5 linked regions of the Homo sapiens genome follow. The protein of the gene in region 4 purifies or fractionates together with the protein of the main gene of each other region. This does not show direct contact. Each region holds a gene or a part of one and is shown on either strand. Other genes may lie near its edges. The genes, in order: RAB11FIP5, MSRB3, GLRX5, SRI and GUK1.

The links.
Region 1: the proteins of SRI (region 4) and RAB11FIP5 fractionate together in Homo sapiens (co-fractionation; one large-scale study listed by BioGRID). This does not show direct contact.
Region 2: the proteins of SRI (region 4) and MSRB3 fractionate together in Homo sapiens (co-fractionation; one large-scale study listed by BioGRID). This does not show direct contact.
Region 3: the proteins of SRI (region 4) and GLRX5 fractionate together in Homo sapiens (co-fractionation; one large-scale study listed by BioGRID). This does not show direct contact.
Region 5: the proteins of SRI (region 4) and GUK1 fractionate together in Homo sapiens (co-fractionation; one large-scale study listed by BioGRID). This does not show direct contact.

The regions. Positions count from the first base shown.
Region 1 is NC_000002.12:73,102,915-73,106,724, reverse strand, and holds part of RAB11FIP5 (rab11 family-interacting protein 5), read left to right. Parts: intron 1-3,810. UniProt on the Homo sapiens protein: Rab effector involved in protein trafficking from apical recycling endosomes to the apical plasma membrane. Involved in insulin granule exocytosis. May regulate V-ATPase intracellular transport in response to extracellular acidosis.
Region 2 is NC_000012.12:65,281,567-65,285,376, reverse strand, and holds part of MSRB3 (methionine-R-sulfoxide reductase B3 isoform 2 precursor), read right to left. Parts: intron 1-3,810. UniProt on the Homo sapiens protein: Catalyzes the reduction of free and protein-bound methionine sulfoxide to methionine. Isoform 2 is essential for hearing.
Region 3 is NC_000014.9:95,537,740-95,541,549, forward strand, and holds part of GLRX5 (glutaredoxin-related protein 5, mitochondrial precursor), read left to right. Parts: intron 1-3,810.
Region 4 is NC_000007.14:88,209,953-88,213,762, reverse strand, and holds part of SRI (sorcin), read left to right. Parts: intron 1-2,837; coding exon 2,838-2,881; intron 2,882-3,632; coding exon 3,633-3,780; intron 3,781-3,810. UniProt on the Homo sapiens protein: Calcium-binding protein that modulates excitation-contraction coupling in the heart. Contributes to calcium homeostasis in the heart sarcoplasmic reticulum. Modulates the activity of RYR2 calcium channels.
Region 5 is NC_000001.11:228,143,083-228,146,478, reverse strand, and holds part of GUK1 (guanylate kinase), read right to left. Parts: intron 1,784-3,396; exon of another isoform or gene 1,727-1,783; intron 969-1,726; coding exon 855-968; intron 454-854; coding exon 412-453; intron 1-411. UniProt on the Homo sapiens protein: Catalyzes the phosphorylation of GMP to GDP. Essential enzyme for recycling GMP and indirectly, cyclic GMP (cGMP). Involved in the cGMP metabolism in photoreceptors. It may also have a role in the survival and growth progression of some tumors.

The sequences.
Region 1 (3,810 bases), on a different chromosome or scaffold from region 4:
TGTGGTTTCCATTAGACCCGGGCAGCCCACAGAGCTGTAGGATTTGGGGTAAAGAAGAGGTGGCATTTGGAGCCCTGTGTGCACCCCGGAGTTTCTGTGGAAGTGCCTGCCAGGTTTTAGTGAGATGGGGACATTGGGCTTCTCTGCTGACCTGGAAGGGTAGTCCAATCCAAAGGCAGTTCTAGAGGCCTGAAAGGCCAAGAGTGGGCCACTGGTGGGGGAGAGATTCCAAAGGGGGGGAAGCCTGGATATCTCCCTACATTTGGAGGAAGCCCTATAGCCAAGTGCTGTGTTTTGGGGCCTAGACAGGGAGCCCTGGAGATGTTCGGAGCAGACAGAGCCACTGGCGCTGGCTGTGGTCTCCTCCTCTGTGAGGAGGGGACATACACCAGAGACCTGTCGGCCATCATGGAACCCATCTGCCTCCCCAGCCTTCTCTGAATCCCCACATCTGGAGCATGTGGCACCTGTTTTGGTGCATTATTTTCATTGCCTCGTTGGTCTAGTGCATTGCTGATGAAGGCCTATCTGGGTGCTGGCACTGTCTTAAGGTCTGGACTTCCATTTGTCCACAGCAAGCCCTTGAGGTGTAGGTGCTGTTTAACAGCTGAGGAAACCTTGGCACGGAGAGGTAAAGTGACTTTGCTTTTTCTTTCTTTTTTTTGAGGGGGTGGGGTCAGGGTCTGGCTCCATCACTGAGGCTGGCATGCAGTGGTGCCATCATAGCTCACTGCAGCCATGAACTCTCAAGTGATCCTCTTGCCTCAGCTTCCCAAAGTGCTGAGATTATAGGCATGAGTCACTGGACTTGACCACAGCACATGGCACAAAGTCAGGATGTGAACCCAGGCAGTCTGGCTTCCCAGTCTATGCTCTTGGCCACCACACCACACTGCCCACCTCAGTCTTCCCCCATGTCTTCCATGACCCTGCTCTGCACAGGGCCAGGTGCTCAGCTGCTGCCTGCCAAGGCTTCCTCTCTTCTCCTTGACATGGATCTCGGGGGTTAATCTGGTGCTCTGTAGGCATGACCTGCTTCTCCTGGGTGAGTCCTTGGTTTATTGGGATAAGCACATTTGGTCTGCAGCTCTAGCCTTATGTCTGTCCCAGAGGCTGGGGGATGTTGTCTCATACTTTGGGAGGGAGTCACTGCCACCAGATACCTCTCGGGAGTGGAGTGAGGGCTGGGTGTGGTGGCTCATGCCTGTAATCCCAGCACTTTGGGAGGCCGCGTCAGGAGGATCACTGGAGGCCAAGAGTTCAAGAGCAACCTAGGCAACATAGCAAGACTCCATTTCTACAAAAATACAAAAAATTAGCTGGGCATGGTGGTGCACACCAGTAGTCCCAGCTACTCAGGAGGCTGAGGTGGGAGGATCACTTGAGCCCGGGAGTTCAAGGCTGCGATTAGCAATGATTGCCCCACTGCACTCCAGCCTGGGTGACAGAGCAAGATCCTGTCTCAAAAAATAAAAATAAAAAAAGGAGTGGAGTGAGGCCTGAGAAGGTCAGCCTCACTTTCCACCAGGGCACTTTCCACCCTGGGGAGATTTGCTCCTTTCAAGCAGGGCTTGGGGGCATCAGCACATACCAGACTCCGTAATCCTTCCCAAGACGTCACATGCTGGTTTTACTGTGACAGAACACTCCAAGCCATCCTGTTCTTCCTCCTGCAGCAATACAGTCATTTGCTATTTTTTCCCTTCTGTTTCACAACATCCAGGAAGCAATTACTGGACAACCATTGTAACCACTGTGCCTAGGTCAGTGCTGTGGGGGAAACCAGGGAAATAAAGTGGATAGCCCTTTCTCCAGAAGGGCTAAAATATGTTTGAGATAAGCCTAACGCAGCAAGGACAATTCCTCTACAAAGCAGCATATAAAAAGCGTGAGAGAATGAGGGGGTCAGGAGAAGAGGGAGCTCACCAGTTGGAGTGATCAGGGTGGGCTTCTTGGGAGAGGTGAGGCCTTGAATAACAGGTGAGACCTGATTAGAGGCAGGGTGAGTTGGAGGCAGGGAAACTGTGAGTGTGGTGGGACTGGGCCAGGAGAGGGAGTGAGGGGAGCCAAGCTTAGTTCCCTGTGTGCCACTCTCAGCAAAACAGCAGGACTTTCTTTACTTCCTATTTAGTTTTGTTTTGTTTTGTTTTGTTTTTTGAGACAGAGTCTTGCTGTGTTGCCCAGGCTGGAGTGCAATGGTGTGATCTTGGCTCACTACAGCCTCCGCCTCCCAGGTTCAAGTGATTCTCCTGCCTCAGCCTACCGAGCAGCTGGGACTACAGGTGCGTGCCACCACGCCCAGCTAATTTTTGTATTTTTAGTAGAGACCATGTTGGCCAGGCTGGTCTCGAACTCCTGACCTCAAGTGATCTGCCTGCCTCAGCCTCCCAAAGTGCTGGGATTACAGGTGTGAGCCACCACACCTGGCCCCTATTTACTTTTGAGTAGTTCACCTGGTCCAAATTCTAAAGGTACAGAAGGGCACATAATGAAAAAAATTTCCCTTGACCCACCTTAAGTCACCTAGCTCCTCTCTTCAGAGACATCCAACATTACCAGTTCTTGTGTAACCTTCCAAAGGTGTTTTCTGCATTTAAAGGCAAATGCGTTGTGTTTTTTCTTCCCTCCCTCCTTGTTCCCAAATGCAACGTTCTCACCACACAGTTCTGTACTTCCCATGAGCCTGGCAGGGAAGTTATTGTTTGTTTCCCCCTGTTGTGGGGTCTGAACTGAGACCTTGGCAGAGGGGACCATCGCCACTTGGTTTTGTCTTCCTCAACCTGAGTCTCCTGGTCAGGGTGAATATGGGGTTAGGAGCACACTGGGGAGGGGGATGGGTTAAGTGGAATTTCTTTATTTTTCCACCTGCCAGAGATCCCCTGAGAGAGGTCATCTTGCGGGTTCTCTCCTTCCTCCTGGGCAGGGTTGTTGCTTTTTGGTCCTGGGCCACCTCACTTATATGGGGCTGATGATGGCCTGTAAAAGGCCTTTGATAGACAATAAACCCACATCTTTCTGTGTGGTTTGGCCTACTTTTAAGGGTGCCTTCCCAGTATCACCTCATTTCATTCTTCCCTGAGGGCAGACAGGGGGATCACCATTTTTGCGAATATGGAGACTGGGGTCTCAGGAGGTGGAATGACCTGTCCAAGGTCACACAACTCTTTAGTGGCAGCCAGATTTCTGATGTCTAAGCCTGATGCTTTTCTCCCTACACTGTGCTATCAACCCTACATCTTTTCTGTTGCTCTCTGTGGTTTGACTTGTCTCCAGCCATTTTTGCAGCTTTTCCTTGTGCTGGGTGAGCTGACAGTGACAGACCTTTGGAGCCTACAGCATTAGGATGAGGATTAAAAGTGCTTGTGCCCAGGAGGGAGGGAGGCTGGACCTGGCTGGGGTCTGAGGAGGGATGAGTGAGCTGTCCCCACAGAGGCAGGGGGAACTCATGAATGAGGACCTGGGCTCCCTCCAAAGGTTGCTGGTGCCAGGCATGGTGCCAGAGGAGGTGATAAGAATCATCTTCTGGCCTGATAAGAGGCTGTATCCTGTCCTGCAATTATGTCTGGCTTGCAGTTTTACTGTAGATACCAAATCAAAAGATGGGGTAGGCGGTGGATGCGGGGAGACAGCAGGGGTTGGCTTGAGGCCCACACAGCTCCTGTGTGCCAGTGTGTGAGGCAGGCTGCTGTGGTGGGCACTTGGAGAGGAGAGGAGGCATCAGGGTGGAGGAGGCTCTAGGGAAAAGGGTTTTCCAACTGTGTCACCATACTCTGAATATAATAGTTCTAGTTTCACTTTACCTTGTCTTTA
Region 2 (3,810 bases), on a different chromosome or scaffold from region 4:
GTAACCCAATCACAGCAATGCCCAGTAACAATGCTGCTCCAGGCTACCACGGCCAAGTGTCAGAGATCAGGGTATAGTGACCGGAGTGGCCAACTCAAGTAAGTGTACAGGAACCTTGCAGTCAACACTTGAAGAGATAAGGCAAGCAAGGAATTCTGTAAAAATGAGGGAAGTATGTGATTTATCATTATTTTTCATTTTACATTAGGAAGTTATCAATAATTATTTTATGGATAAGAACCTGACCATGGCCACAAAAAGTAACCATAAAGGACCCCAAAAAAGTATAAAGAGTACTCCATCTGGTGGAAATCATATCTTCTTCACATTCTGTCCAGTCTTGGGGAAGAAGAGTGAGGAACGAGGAGGAGTGTGAGACACAATGTGTGTTCAAATTGGTGATGATGAAGACATTTAGGAGTCAGTCCTTTATCTGAAGAAAGATAAGAAGCCACTGAGGGAGGGTTAAGCAGGAAAGAGGGGAAATGATTTTGTAGTTTAGAAAGGTCATTCTGGATGCAGTATCCTTTGTCCAACACTTCCCATGTATTATCTCTCAAGTTAGTAAATGTGATGTCCCCTCAACAAGGAAAGCTCGTGAACAGAATGCCATATACCGACTCGGCATCTTTTAAAGTCAGATCAAATTCTCTCTTCTCTATGATGCTTTTCCTGTACCCTTCCTTTTACTCCAGCTAACAAATGCTCTCTTTTTCTCTTTATTTTTAACTCTCCTTACTCATACATGTTTTATTTCCAGCCTTGATCTCTCCCTCCAAGTTCCAGTTTCACACTTCGGATTCTACTACACATCTCCACAGGAATATCCTACCAGCACCTCAAAAGCAAGAGATCTAGAACAAAACTTATTTTTACCTCCACCCACAAACCTGCTGAGATCACATTCTCTCCATCACCCAGGCTTAACATCTCATGTCACCTTTTATTCATCCCTTTCTTTCCCAATATCCAATTGCTTATTTCTGTCCAATGTACTTTAGCAACACTTCTACTGCGGTGCCGCTATTCTCGTTAGGTCTTCATTCCTTAAGAGAAACTCTCAAAACACTTCTTTATTGGTCCTATGACTTATTTCCCAATTTAATTAATTATCTAAACTATTGGATTATATAACCTATAATTCACCTCTGATTATGACATTTCAAGGATCAAAAATGTCAGTCTCATAACTTACTAACCCAATCCAAGTTCCCTAACAGCATTAAAAGCCTTCCACTTAATTTTCCATATTTGTACTTTATTGTCCCACTATTCCACTTTATACATGCTCATTTTCTTCTACACCTGTCCTCTCTATCTGATCTGGTAAATTCTGGGTGCTCAACAAAAGCTGATTTCCTTCTGTATGAGTTGCTGTCCTCTCCTTCCCCCTGCCATCTCAGTTACAGGAAAGCATCCTATCATTTGTATATTCCCTCTTCATACAGGAAATTAGTGTTCATGGAAAAGCATGTAAAATCTAGGAAACAGACAAGTATTAAGAAAGAAAAGCAGAGTGATTGAACTCCAATTTCAAAAGAAGACAGCAGCAAGCAGGATACCATAAAAGCATCAGAGTATCTGAAAAAGTCAGAATTGTTATACCTGGAACAATGGATGCTCAGAGCCTATCAGAATTCTTCTAGCTGAGTGCAGTGGCTCATGCCTGTAATCCTAGCACTTTGGGAAGCCAAGGCTGGCAGATCACTTGAGGTCAGGAGTTTAAGACCAGCCTGGCCAACATGGTGAAACCCCATCTCTACAAAAAAATACTACAATTAGCTGGGCATGGTGGCAGGTGCCTGTAGGCCCAGCTACTCAGAAGGCTGGAGTGGGAGAATCACCTGATTCTAGGGAGTTCGAGGCTGCAGTGAGCCATGAGTGTGCCACTGCACTCCAGTCTGGGTGACAGAGTGAGATCCTATCTCAAAAAAAAAAAAAAATTCTAGGTGATTCACTGACATATGGAATTTATAGTTTAGTGAAGTTGAATATATATGGACTTAACTACAACACAAGACAATATAGTAAAACTTGTACTCCAACCATGGTCCAAAACACCTTAGAAGCACAAGGAAATTACAAATTCTGTGGTATGAAGAAAATGTCACAAACTACCATCTGACAGAGGCCTTAAAGACTTCAACCTGTTGTGATAGAGAAGAGGTCCAGGCAGTAGGAACAGCCTAAAGGAAAGGTAGAGACAGAAAATGTTAGATATGTGTGAGAAATAGGAAAACAACTGATAAATTCTCAGTCCCTAAGCTATTACTGTTTCAAATATCTCTACCACTTATAGTTTTAATGAACTTATCCTAAAGAGCCACTGGAGGTCAGCATTTTATTCAGTGAATTCCTGAAAATATGCAGATGATTATTTGCAGAGTGAATTAGTTGTTATCAGAGAAAATGTTCACAATTCATTTTAAGGACTATAACCTCATAACATAAAATGGAAAAATGCAAAATCAAACCATCTACATGGCTGTACTACGTACATCAGATACTCTAGAATTAGAAGAGACTTTAGGGAAAATCTAGGTCAACCATGTGACCTAAACTGTGTCTATCAGGTTCTACCTCCCAGGAATTTAGGATCAAGGCTCAATAATATAGTCCCTCCTTATGAAGGGACACATAAATACTCAGGAGCTGCTGAGCAGCCACATCTAACCATGAAGAGAAAAAAAAAAAAAAAAACACCAGCAAAGAAAAAACAGTGAAGCAAACTAGAGACAGGGAATGTTCTAGATTTTTCCAGTCCCTTATCTCAGGCCCTAAATGAGGTCTGCCTGCATTTGACTTCCAATGGTTTTCCAACAAATTCCTTTCTTCCTTTTTGCTAAAACTAGTTCATTTCTGTTACTGCAATAGAAGCTTAAATGAGGCAATAACCAAAATCTTTCATAAAGTCAATTGTTCGATGCGTTTGTTTGATCTTTTCTATACTTTCCTTTTTTGTACTTCCCTTAAAGCCATAAACATGACTTCAGCATACTATACAGACAAATATATGAACATGGATGAGGGACTGTGCTGAGCAATTTTTTTTTTTTTTTGAGACAGAGTTTTGCTCTTGTCGCCCAGGCTGGAGTGCAGTGGCATGATCTTGGCTCACTGCAACATCCGCTTCCCTGGTTCAAGTTATTCTCCTGCCTCAGCCTCCTGAGTAGTTGGGATTACAGGTGCCCACCACCATGCCCGGCTAATTTTTGTATTTTTCATAGAGACAGGGTTTCACCGTGTTGGCCAGGCTGGTCTCAAACTCCTGACCTCAGGTGATCTGCCTGCCTCGGCCTCCTAAAGTGCTGGGATTACAGGCGTGAGCCACCACACCCAGCCTGTGCTGAGCATTTTAAAAGGAAAACCCATCATGGGCAGGAAAGAGAAAATACAGAATATTCAAAGTAAATCCTTGAGATACAGCAAGAAGAAATGCTAACTAACAACTGGCAAATTAAATAGCTGATTACCCTTCCATCCAAATCCAGTTTAATTCTGCTAAATCAGATAGGTAGATCCAATTCAATCTTCTCTGAGGTAAGATCAAAAGGTGATAACCCATTATAGGCTATTTCATCTGGAATGCTCACAGATAACTAGCCTTCCCAACCACAGAAATGTTTGGATGCTCTCTGGCGGTATCCCTAACCCAGACCTAAATAACAAAACTGAATATCAAACTGTCTTAAGGCCTGGGCTTAACTATCCCCAAAAACCAGTTAGGCATTTACCCTATGACATAATCAGCACTTTCTGCTATTAGATGAGGAAGAAAAAGTGATAGAAGCTTAACACGGAATCTGTCCA
Region 3 (3,810 bases), on a different chromosome or scaffold from region 4:
GTGCCTAAACCGGAGGAAAACATTCTTTCCTAGTTTTGAGTACTGGGTTCCCAGGAGTGTGATACAGACACATCTTGAGACTGTGACCCAAGGAACAAAGGTGACTATGAGGCAGCATTGTGTTCTGGCCTTCTCAAGACCTTCTTGTCCTTCTCTTTTTATCTGGAGTGCACACAGAAGACAGTCACAAAGGGATCAGGTCCCAGTAGACTGACATCATCATTTCCTAATCCTGGTCTTAATAAAGGAACTTATGCTCATGGAAGCAATGTAGAAAACACTGAAAAGTTTAAAGAAGGAAAATCACCTGTAATTTATGGAAACTATTGTATTAACATTTAGATCTAGTTCCTAACAGTTTTTTTTTTTTTAACACATTGAGACCATGCTTGTCTATACATAGTATTTTGCCCTCCAGAGACGAGGGAATATGTCTTATGCCACTGCCTGTGGTGCTGTGTGTACCGCTTATGCAAAGCAAGCTTTCAGTGAGCATTTTAATAAATAAATAAATACTGCTTTTATTTATCATTATATTGCAAACTCTGCGGCCTTAAAGGCATTATAAACATTTGCTGCCGATTTAGATCATCATTGTAGTCCTTGCATCTGGAACAGTGACAGAATAGGGACTCAAATGATTTGTTGAATAAATAACCATATCCTGTTGTTGAATGTTTATTAAGCATTTGAAAATACGCTCCACCTTTTCAGTATCAGGGAATTGAAGACAGTAGTGAAACATGTCATGCTGGTGAACCTTAAAAGTTGGATAACAAGTTGTGTGTATGTGCTTGTGTGGTGCACATGTATGCTGCAGATGGGAGTATAAAATGGTACCAACACTTTGGAGGAGTAACTATCAGTACCCAGTCAAGCTATGGGTGAACAGAGCCTAAGACCCAGCTGCGTGACTCCTAGGTATATATTCTAGAGAGGGGGATCTGCAAACTTACCCTAGTAAAGGGCCAGAGACTAAGTACGTCAGGCTTTGTGGGCTGTGTGGTTTTTGTTGCATCTATTCAACTCTGCTGTTATATAGCCTGAAGTCAGTCATGGGCAATATGTAGATGAATGAGCAGGCTGAGTTTCAATAAAACTTTATTTATGAAAATACAGCTTTAATTACGAAGTAGACTGGATTTGGCCTGAAGACCATAGTTTATCTGTCCCTGGCCTAGAGACTGACTTCTGCATGTGTGTGTTAGGACATGGGTCCCCAACCCCCAGGCCAGGGATCGAGGACTTACAGCAGGAGGTAAGCGGTGGGTAAGTGAGCTTTACCGCCTGAGCTCCGCCTCCTGCCACATCAGTGACGACATTAGGTTCTCATAGGAGCACAAACTCTATTGTGAACTGCACATGTGAGGAATCTAGGTTGTGCGTTCCTTACGAGAATGTAACTAATGCCTGATGATGTGAGGTGGAACCGTTTCATCCCGAAGCTATCCCCACCCTTCCCTGGTCCGTGGAAAAATTGTCTTCCACAAAACCAGTCCCTGGTGCCAAAAAGGTTGGGGACCTCTGTGTTAGGATACCTGTGTTGGCGCGTTCATTGCAGCATGGCTTGCAATAATGAAAAACTGACAGGAAGGGATCTTGGTCTATTAGCAGCAGACCAGATAAATAAACTTTAGTCACATGATGGAAAGCTAAACTGTAGTTAAAATGAACTAGATCTAGATGTATTTAACATGGCTGAATCTCAAAAATACAATATTTAGTCAAAAAGCAAGTTGCAAACACGTAATTATGGCATAATACCATTTGTATATGTAAATGTTAAAGGCATAAAACAGTCCCATATATTGCAGATATGTGTGCAGTGCACTTGTAGCTCCTGGGCAGGAGTGAGATGGCAGCTAGAGGGTAGAGGCCACCTCTGGTGAGGGACTCAGGTAGCATGTGGTTAAGAGTCTGGGCTTTTGTACTCCTGGAAGCCTGGATATAAATCCTGGTTTCACTGCGCTGTCACTGTGAGTTTCGGTAAGTTACTTAACCCTTCTGAGCCTTAGTTTCTTCATCTTATGTAAAGTAGGGATAATTGTACCTGCCTTGTCAGATTTTTGTAAAGATTAAATAAGATTATTTTTGTAAAACGCTTAAAGAGTATGAAACTCAGTAATCCTTAACTCAATAAATGGTATATATATATATATTTTTTTTTTTTTGAGAGAGTGTTACTCTGCTGCCTAGGCTGAAGTGCAGGGGGCAATCTCGGCTCACTGCCACCCCTGCCTCCCGGGTTCAAGCGATTCTCCTGCCTCAGCCTCCCAAGGAGCTGGGATTGCAGGCACCTGGCACCATGCCTGGCTAATTTTTTTTATTTTTAGTAGGGACAGGGTTTCACCATGTTGGCCAGGCTGGTCTTGAACTCCTGACCTCAGGTGATGCACCAGCCTTGGCCTCCCAAAGTGCTGGGATTACAGGTGTGAGCCACCGCACCTGGCCTGAATGGCGTTTTCATTACTTTAGGGTATACTTAATCACTTTTTCCTGCTTTATTTTCCTATGCTTTTTCTGTTGCCTTTCTCAGAAAAGCATTACTGTGAAGGGTGGGTGGTGGAGCATGTTGGTATGGAGAGAATGTCCACACTGTACCTGGTACTATGCTGGGAGCTCAATTCATTTCATTCCTTAGATATCATGGAATCTTCATAATATGTGAGGCGTAGAGTATATTCCCATTTTACAGATGAGGAAACTGAGGCTAAAAGATTAACAGATTTGTCTGAGGCTACATTTACAGGCTAGCAAACCAGATCTACTGATCCTTAAGCCTGTGCCTTGCCCACTCTGCCCCGTGCCTTGCTTTTCCTCTAGTGAGGGTCTACTGATTTCCGTGCTTTCAGCTCAGATCATCTTATCTCGACTTAACGCCATTCTCTAAATTAGAGAATATGAAGAAATTGTGACTCTCAGAGGTGGTGTAACTTGCCCAAGATCACAGAGTCTAGTAGGTAAGAGACAGAGTTGGAACTCATATCAGATTCTGAAGCTACTGTAGTGAGGTTCTACCAGGAAAAATAAAAAGAAAGAAAACTATGATTATGCTGCTCTCGTAATTTAGTGTCCAAATCAGGAGTAATGCCCAGTGTTCTGAATGTGATGAATTTTGAAAAATACCTTTTGAAAGTTCTGGAAGGGAATTTTAAAGTATCATTTCTGTACTCTTTCTGGGTTGATACTTTGGAATATGAATTTGTTTGTATGGGTTTTTTTGGTGGAGCATTAGATGCGTGTAAACTGACTTTGTAAGATAGCCTCCTAACTCCCAGTTCCTAGTGTTACTCTGCCATATAACTTTGCAGTCAGCATTTTCTGCCCCAGATGGAATCACCACCGTCTATCACATATGAAATAATGATTATCATTAAAATTCATTCTTGGATGTGATTTTCTAATTTTCAGGAGTAGCTCTCTGATTCTGAGTTAATTTCAAGTGATATTTGTAAGAACTACCACTGCATATTGCAGTTTTTGAAAACTAAAGTGTGAGAGAGATTAACCATGTGTAAACAGTTACTTGTGGATCCGCAGGATTCATTTTAATATTCAACTTATGAAGAGTAGTCTTTTATTATTATTAGGAGTTTCTCACTTCACTCTATAGGAAGCAATTGGGTATTTCCTTAAATATTTAAACTGGTAATCAACTTTCTTAAAAATGGAAAAGAGCATAGTCATTAAGAAGGGTGCCAACGTTTGGCCTTGATGCCAGCTGCCTATTACACCTATTCATCTAAAAATTAAAGAAGCAGCTAAGTTTAATTTTGATAAACCGTCAGCTGCTGTCAAGAACAGGCAGGT
Region 4 (3,810 bases):
GTACATATAAAGTGCAGGGCTCTACAGCTTCCTGCGTGGGGGTGAGAATTTGGTGCCATCCATCCATACCAGTGCATTTTTAGTGAATACTTCCTATGAGCTAGGTGCTGGCTCTGTAGCCACAATCAATGCCTGGGTGTTGGGAAAAGCACTGGGATAAGAGAGAGGCTGTGGAATCACATAGAATGGGCACATAACCCAGACAGGAGTCAGGAAAGTTTTCCTTGCAGAATTGATACCTAAGCTGAGCAGAAATGAGGCCGACCATGAAGTGAGTGGGATGGGGAAGTTGTGTCCTAGGTTGTTAGAACAGCATGTGCAGAAGACCCAGAAATAGCGTGGTTCAGTCAAGAAATTGAGAAATTCTCCATGAAGATAGTGTACGGGGTTGAACAAGAGTAAGAGATGAGCCTGACTTGCAAAATAAGTGTGTTACCTTATGTACCAGTTAAGGTGCTTGGACTTTATCCTGAGAGCAGTAGATCACTGATACTGGGTTTTGCATAGGAGAGCACATACTACCCCTGACTGTAAAGACTAATAAATTGGGGGACATGGAAGTAAAACAAGAGTCAGGGATGCCCATTAGGGAGCTGCTGGAGTCATACAGGTGAGAGAAATGCTAACTAAGGAGACAGTGGGGCTGGAAATGGACTCTACAGCTGTTTAGAAGGTGATTGATTATTGGTGGAGAGGGAATTGAGGAGGCTCCCAGGTTTCTGGCTTGGGTTACTGCTGAGTGGATGGGGGTGCCATTCATTAACAGAGACAGAGAAGCTGTCTGCCTCATAGCCCCTTCAATACCTTCATGTGAGCCCAACACAGTTGGCTCTGCGCTGTGGTTGTCAGGCCGTCCAGAGCAGTTCTTAAACTTTAGCAGCATTGGCATCACCTGGAAAGCTTACAAAAACCAGATTGCTGGGTCATGCCCTAGAGTTTCTCATTCAGAGGTCTGGAGTGAGTCCTGAGAATTTCACCTCTAACAGGTTTCCATGTGATGCTGGTTCAGGTTGAACCAGCTTCTTTAACATGAATATCTATCACCTGCACATCTGCTAAAATTCAGCTTCTGATTTTATTGGTGTAGGGTAAGGGCTGAGATTCTGCAGTTCTTCAAGCTCCTGGGTGATGCTAATATGGCTGGTCCAGGAATCACACTTTGAGTAGAATGGTGGTCTCAACCTTGGCTGCTCACTAGAATCATCTGAAAAGCTTTTTAAAAATACAAATACCTGGGTCCCACACTCAGAGTTCCTGATTTAATTGTTCTATGGTGCAGCCCAGGTATCAGAATCTTTTAAAGCTTTGATTCAGATAAGCACAAGTGTGGAGAACTACAGCTCCAGATTAGAGGGACTTCATACCTCCACACAACTTAAAAGTCAGAATGAAGAATCTACCAGCTCTTTCCCAAACTGTAAAAAGTGCTTCCTCCTCCTCTCACCTCAGAGAATATTATCTGTGGATCAAATGGAGATTGAAGGACCAAAATAGAAATAGTCACTAGTCTTTTATTTCCAGTAAAGCATATGCCAAACACAGGAATCTATTAAATGTGTAAAACCTATAGTTTGCACTGTTGGGAGACATTACAGTAATGAGCGCAGTTGTGTTTTAATTTCAGTTTGGTTTGAGAAAAAATATGAAGCTACAAAGAGCTGTTAAAAATGTTCTGTGTGTTAACAAGCTTGCAGAATTTATACCAGCTTTTCCCACGTGACCCTTGTCACTTCTGCCATTTAGCGTTGTAGCTTCTTTGTACCTATACAATTTCTTCAGTCATTGATTCCCATTAATTCAATGTAAGAGGTGGTTTTTAATTTCCTAATGCTTAGGTTACCAGTAACCACACCCATTGCATGTGCTCTGGTTTGGTTACATAAGTGAGGTACCAAAATGCCCTCATAATACTCCTAAACTGTAGGTAAATTAAAAAGGCTTCTGAATAGTGGCCACCACTGAATTGGTCATGGGGTCTTATCTAGAGTACTCTTATTTAACACATAATTCTAACAACCATATTTATCTGGTTTCATATATAAGCTAAGAGGTCATAGACTATTTGAGGTAGGAGGTTACTGCTCAGTACCTGACATTGAAGGGAAAATAGAAAAACAAGTAATCAGACACAAAATTAGCAAAACCAGCAATTTATAGTCATTTATGAGTAGGAACAAAGCAACCCTGACTTCCCACCCACCATGTTGGATATAATACATTATGGTTCGTTATGGTGACTTGAACTCGCTATATTACAGTTTCAAAGCAAGAAAGTATGAACAGTACTATGTAATACTTTTTTTTTTTTGAGATGGAGTCTTGCCCTGTCACCCAGGCTGGAGTGCAGTGGCATGATCTCAGCTCACTGTAACCGCCTCCTCCCAGGTGCAAGCAATTCTCCTGCCTCAACCTTCTGAGTAGCTGAGATTACAGGTGTGTGCCACCAGGCCTGGCTAATTTTTATATTTTTAGTAGAGACGAGTTTTTGCCATGTTGGCCAGGCTGGTCTCAAACTCCTGACCTCAGGTGATCCGCCTGTCTCGGCACCCCCCAAAGTGCTGGGATTACAGGCGTGAGCCACCATACCCGGACTATGTAATACTTTTTAAAAGGAATTCTGTCAAAGTTATTTAAATCAAATTTGGGTTCCTAGCAAAAAATCTTCTTTATGGAGAAAAGGCTACTTTGAAGTTCCATATGATTAGTCACACGTAAATTGATAGCATATAAAAATAAAAGTGTATAATAATCATATTTCTAATTAATTTGAATGTATCCAGTGTAATGTGAATTTTTGGATTTGTGTTAATATGTATGTACTTTTCTTGATTTAACAGCTTTTAACCTGGAGACTTGCCGGCTTATGGTTTCAATGCTGGATGTATCCTTTACTTTGATTGTTGTCTAGAATAATTTTTTCTAAAATTCTAAAGGAATTCATCTTAGAATTAATATCTAGTAAACACAAAGTAATAAATGATCACTAAAAAGCTTTCTGAAATAATTAGCTTCTATTATAGGGTGGAATTTGGTGTGAATAAAGGAAGAAAAGAAATTTAGTAAACAGAATGTTGTTCAGGAATTTAAGGAAACATCAGAGTATTATAGAACAAGTACAGAGTCCAGAGTGTCAGGACAGCTTTTTTTCTTTAACATTGATTCCTCTGCAAGTGATGGGATTTTTCACATCCCACTTGTTGGACTGAGTTTAGGTAGTGCTGACTATCCAGTGCATTCCATCCCACCTCATTTGTCTGGGGGCACTAAACAAGGGAATATTAGTACCAGAGATGATGCTAGGACAGAAGGGCAAACAGCATAGCCTGAAGCACCCACAAAGTACAGCCTAGTTCCAGTAACAAGACCGCTTTTTATAAGTGGTTCACAATGGCAACGCTATTTCCTTATAATCAAGTCATGTAAGTTATCTTTTCCCCACAGTAAAAATTGGCACTTGAGCTTTTTCTCCATAGCCCCTTTCTATTTTTAAATCATTAATTTTACATCATACCAAGAATAATCTACAATAACTTTTTTAGCCATTGAATATTGAATTCCCCTTATCCTTGATCTTTCATTTAATCCTTAGAAAATATCGCAAAATACAGCTCTAATCCTTGATTACAGTTCAGAGAGATATGTCTGGCACAATGGGTTTCAATGAATTTAAAGAACTCTGGGCTGTACTGAATGGCTGGAGACAACACTTTATCAGTTTTGACACTGACAGGAGTGGAACAGTAGACCCACAAGAATTGCAGAAGGCCCTGACAACAATGGGTAGGTATGGCTTACTAGAACTCTCCATTC
Region 5 (3,396 bases), on a different chromosome or scaffold from region 4:
ACTGGGTTGCACGGCAAGGGGCGGGGGTGCTGTTGGGAAGGGGGTCCCTTGTCTTGAATCAGGCAGGCAGAGTAGCCCTTTTTACCAGGACTCCAGAAGACAGCTCAAAAGTGCTGATAAGTGCCGAGTCCAGGACAGGGCTGGGGACAGCAGCACTGTGGCCGCCTCCAAGGTGGGAGGAAGACAGCCCCAGGCCTTGGCCGGCCTCTCACACTGTACCCAAGGAAGGCGACACCACGCTGTGGCGCTGACACCCTGATTGAGTTCACCGGCCCTTGGAGGCAAGGACCCATCTCACAGATTAGGGATTGATGGGGGCAGGAGACGGGCAGCACAGCCAACACAGCTGCAGGGCCCAGCAGCCCTGCCCACACTGGGGGTGCTCCAGCCATAGGGCCCCACCCCACTCACCTTTGCCGTTCTCCTCGCCGGGCCTCGGGTTCCTCGTGGTATCTAGCAGAGAGACCTGTCACCCATCGGGGGCTGCTCGGAGCCCAATGCCCCACCCAGCGTTTCCCTTGCAGTCCCGACAGCACTTGAGCCCCAGGATGCAGGCAGCCAGTGAAGCACACCACTGGGAAGGCGCAGGAGCCTACAAGGCGAGGGTTCTCCCAGAAAGAAACACTGTGGCCCAGTTATCAGTACTCAACAGACCCAGGGAAGGGAGACACAGGCACGCAGGACAGCAGGAGTGTGATAACCTCAGGTTCTGTGTGGGGGGGAGTGTGCAAGAGTTCGGACAGTCTGCAGGGTGGGTGTGCCTGTTGGGTTTGGGCTCCTGGCCTGCTCACGGTGCTAGGACTACTCAGCAGCCTTGAGGTCTACGCACCCCTCCACGAGAGCCCTGGACTCACGGGACACGCTGAAGCCAAAGATGCCGCTGTGCTCCTGGAGCAGCCTCTTCAGCAGGGTGCTCTTCCCAGCTCCCGAAGGCCCGCTCAGCACCACAGGCCTGGGGCCCGACATGCCTGGGGGTGAGAAGAGAGGCTGTGGATAGCAGTGCGGCCTCTAGTCCCCATCTGCTGAGCTGCCTCTGCCTTCCTGAATTCATGGCAGGAAAGGGCTGACCCAGGGATGGAGACATTGGCCTGAGAGTCTCCTGAGAGCCTGGGTGTTCTTCCCCCTGAGCTCTGCCACGTTGGAAGGGCCGGCATGCACAGGGCGGCCCTCAGACCAGGCTCTGGGCACACGGGAGACGAATGGAAGGCCGGCTTTACTGGGTTCTCAGCAGGGGAGCCCCCCAACTGAAACCCACTGACCCTGTCAGCCTCCCCAGGGGTCCCTAGCAAGCAATGCTGTCTACTCTGATGACACCCTACCTGGGAGCTGCCGTCCCCACCTGGTGGAGTCACCTCCAAGCCCTCTGGGAGCCTGCTCTGAGACCCCCACCCCACCCAGGAGTCCAGCCATTTGCTCCCATGCATGGTGCTGAGTGCTGGGCTGCTAGGTCTGGAATGGAAGTGTCCCTGTCCCCGCCTCTGTCCTCTGGTACCTTGCCCTGCAGATATGGTCTTGTAAAGATCTACTGAATCTACACCTATTCCAGGAACTTCTCATAGGACTTGGGACTCCTATCTGTGATGCTGGTAATGCCAGAGGGGGTTGGAGGCCTCCCTCCCAGCCCCCAAGGGAAAGGCAAACAGGATCCTAGCTTGGACACGTGGCAGGTGAGGGCCCGGGAGCTGGCCTTTGCCTGGTGGGAATCCTCCCCAAGAACAGGGCCTACCTGTTTGCTGAGGTGCAGCCTCTGTAGTCAGCCTGGGGTGGGTCTGTCTGCTGGACTGAGAGCTGGGGGTGCTGAGTCCCTAATCCCCACTACGCCTGCTTCTGGCCCCACCCTTCTAAGCCACGAATAAATCCCCAGGGGGCCTGGCCCTGGGCCCTTGCAGGGAAGCAGCCCCATCCACCTGCTCTGCGGCTGTGCAGGAAGGAAAAGACAGCTCCAGCTCTTGCCCCAAGACCTGCACCTGCCCTGCCCTCCCAGTCCACATGAGCTGCACACACAGGGCCAGGGCAGCGTCTTCGAGTTGGGATGGGGAGCAGAGCTGAGGAGTGGGGCCGTGCACTGCAGCTGTGTTCAGGGGCTGGGCTAGAGGGAAGCGGATGGACCCCTGGCCACACGCACACCTTGGACACAACTCAGGCGAGGCGTGAATGGCCTCCTCCTGTTTAGGGCACAGCCGCCTGTGGGCAGACGAGCAGACAGTGGGAAGGACCTGAGGATGCCCTCCTAATCCCCAATTTAGGCCACCGAGGTAATCTCACAAATGCACCACGGCTGCAACTCCATCATGCACAGCGACACCCACCACACACATGCCACTCCCAGGCACAAAGGTATGCAGGATGTGTGCACAAACCTACCACAAACACACACACATGCATGCACACACAAACACACACACAAATGCACGCACACCAAGCAAATGCACACACACCACACATGTGTACCTGCAAAGGTACACATGCACACGCATACATGTCATTGATCACAAACACACCGGACCCCCAGTTAAAAAGACTCAAGAGGAAGGGAACTGCAGGACACCCACCCAGAAGTCCATGTGCTCTCCATAAGGGATAGACTCCTCCCTCCTTACTGCCTCTTCTGGGCTTTTTGTCACAAGCACACATCGTTTTCATCTCACCATGCACCCCATGCCCTCCTGGCTCTCCCACCCGCAGAATTTGCCCCTGCGCTTAGCTCGGGCCTCCCCACTAACCTGGCTCCTGCTGCTCACCCAGCCCTGCCACCTCCTCTACGTGCCAGCCAACCATCAGCACGCACTGCAGTGGCCAGGGTTCTTTATCCATTCAGCTTCTCCCAGCCAGCGAGCCCTGCAACCTCCACAGCCTGGTTCCCATAATGCACTAGCTAGGAGCCCCCCAGAGTCTCCCACAATCAATGAGCCATGCCACTTGTGTGAATTTCTGGCCCCTGCTTCTCGCCAGGGTGGAAGGGGTACAGTTCTCAGGACACATCCAGCAATTGCTACACACCTACTTGAAGCACTGAGATCACAGAAATTATGACTTGATGGTATTATGGTGACTTTTCTAATACGAAGGAGAAAAAGTAAAGCTAAATCATGTGCTTCGAAGGACCCGATATGGGAGAGCTACTCAAATGGTCCTGTGGGCTGGACCCCATGTGAGCTTCTGTCCTGTTGCTCCACTGAGCTGGCCCTTCTTAAGGTCACTCTGCCCTGCCAACCCACAACCAGCATGGCACTGGTGGGCCTGACAGGGCTGCCCCAAGGCCGGTCCTGCCCTGTTCCCCCCAGCCCCTGGCTCCAAGCTCTTCGGGTCTGAACCTAGATGCTACGTGACTATAAACCCACACAGAAGGAAACACAGTGGTGACCTCCACTGACCAGGCCTCCCCTCCTCCCTCCT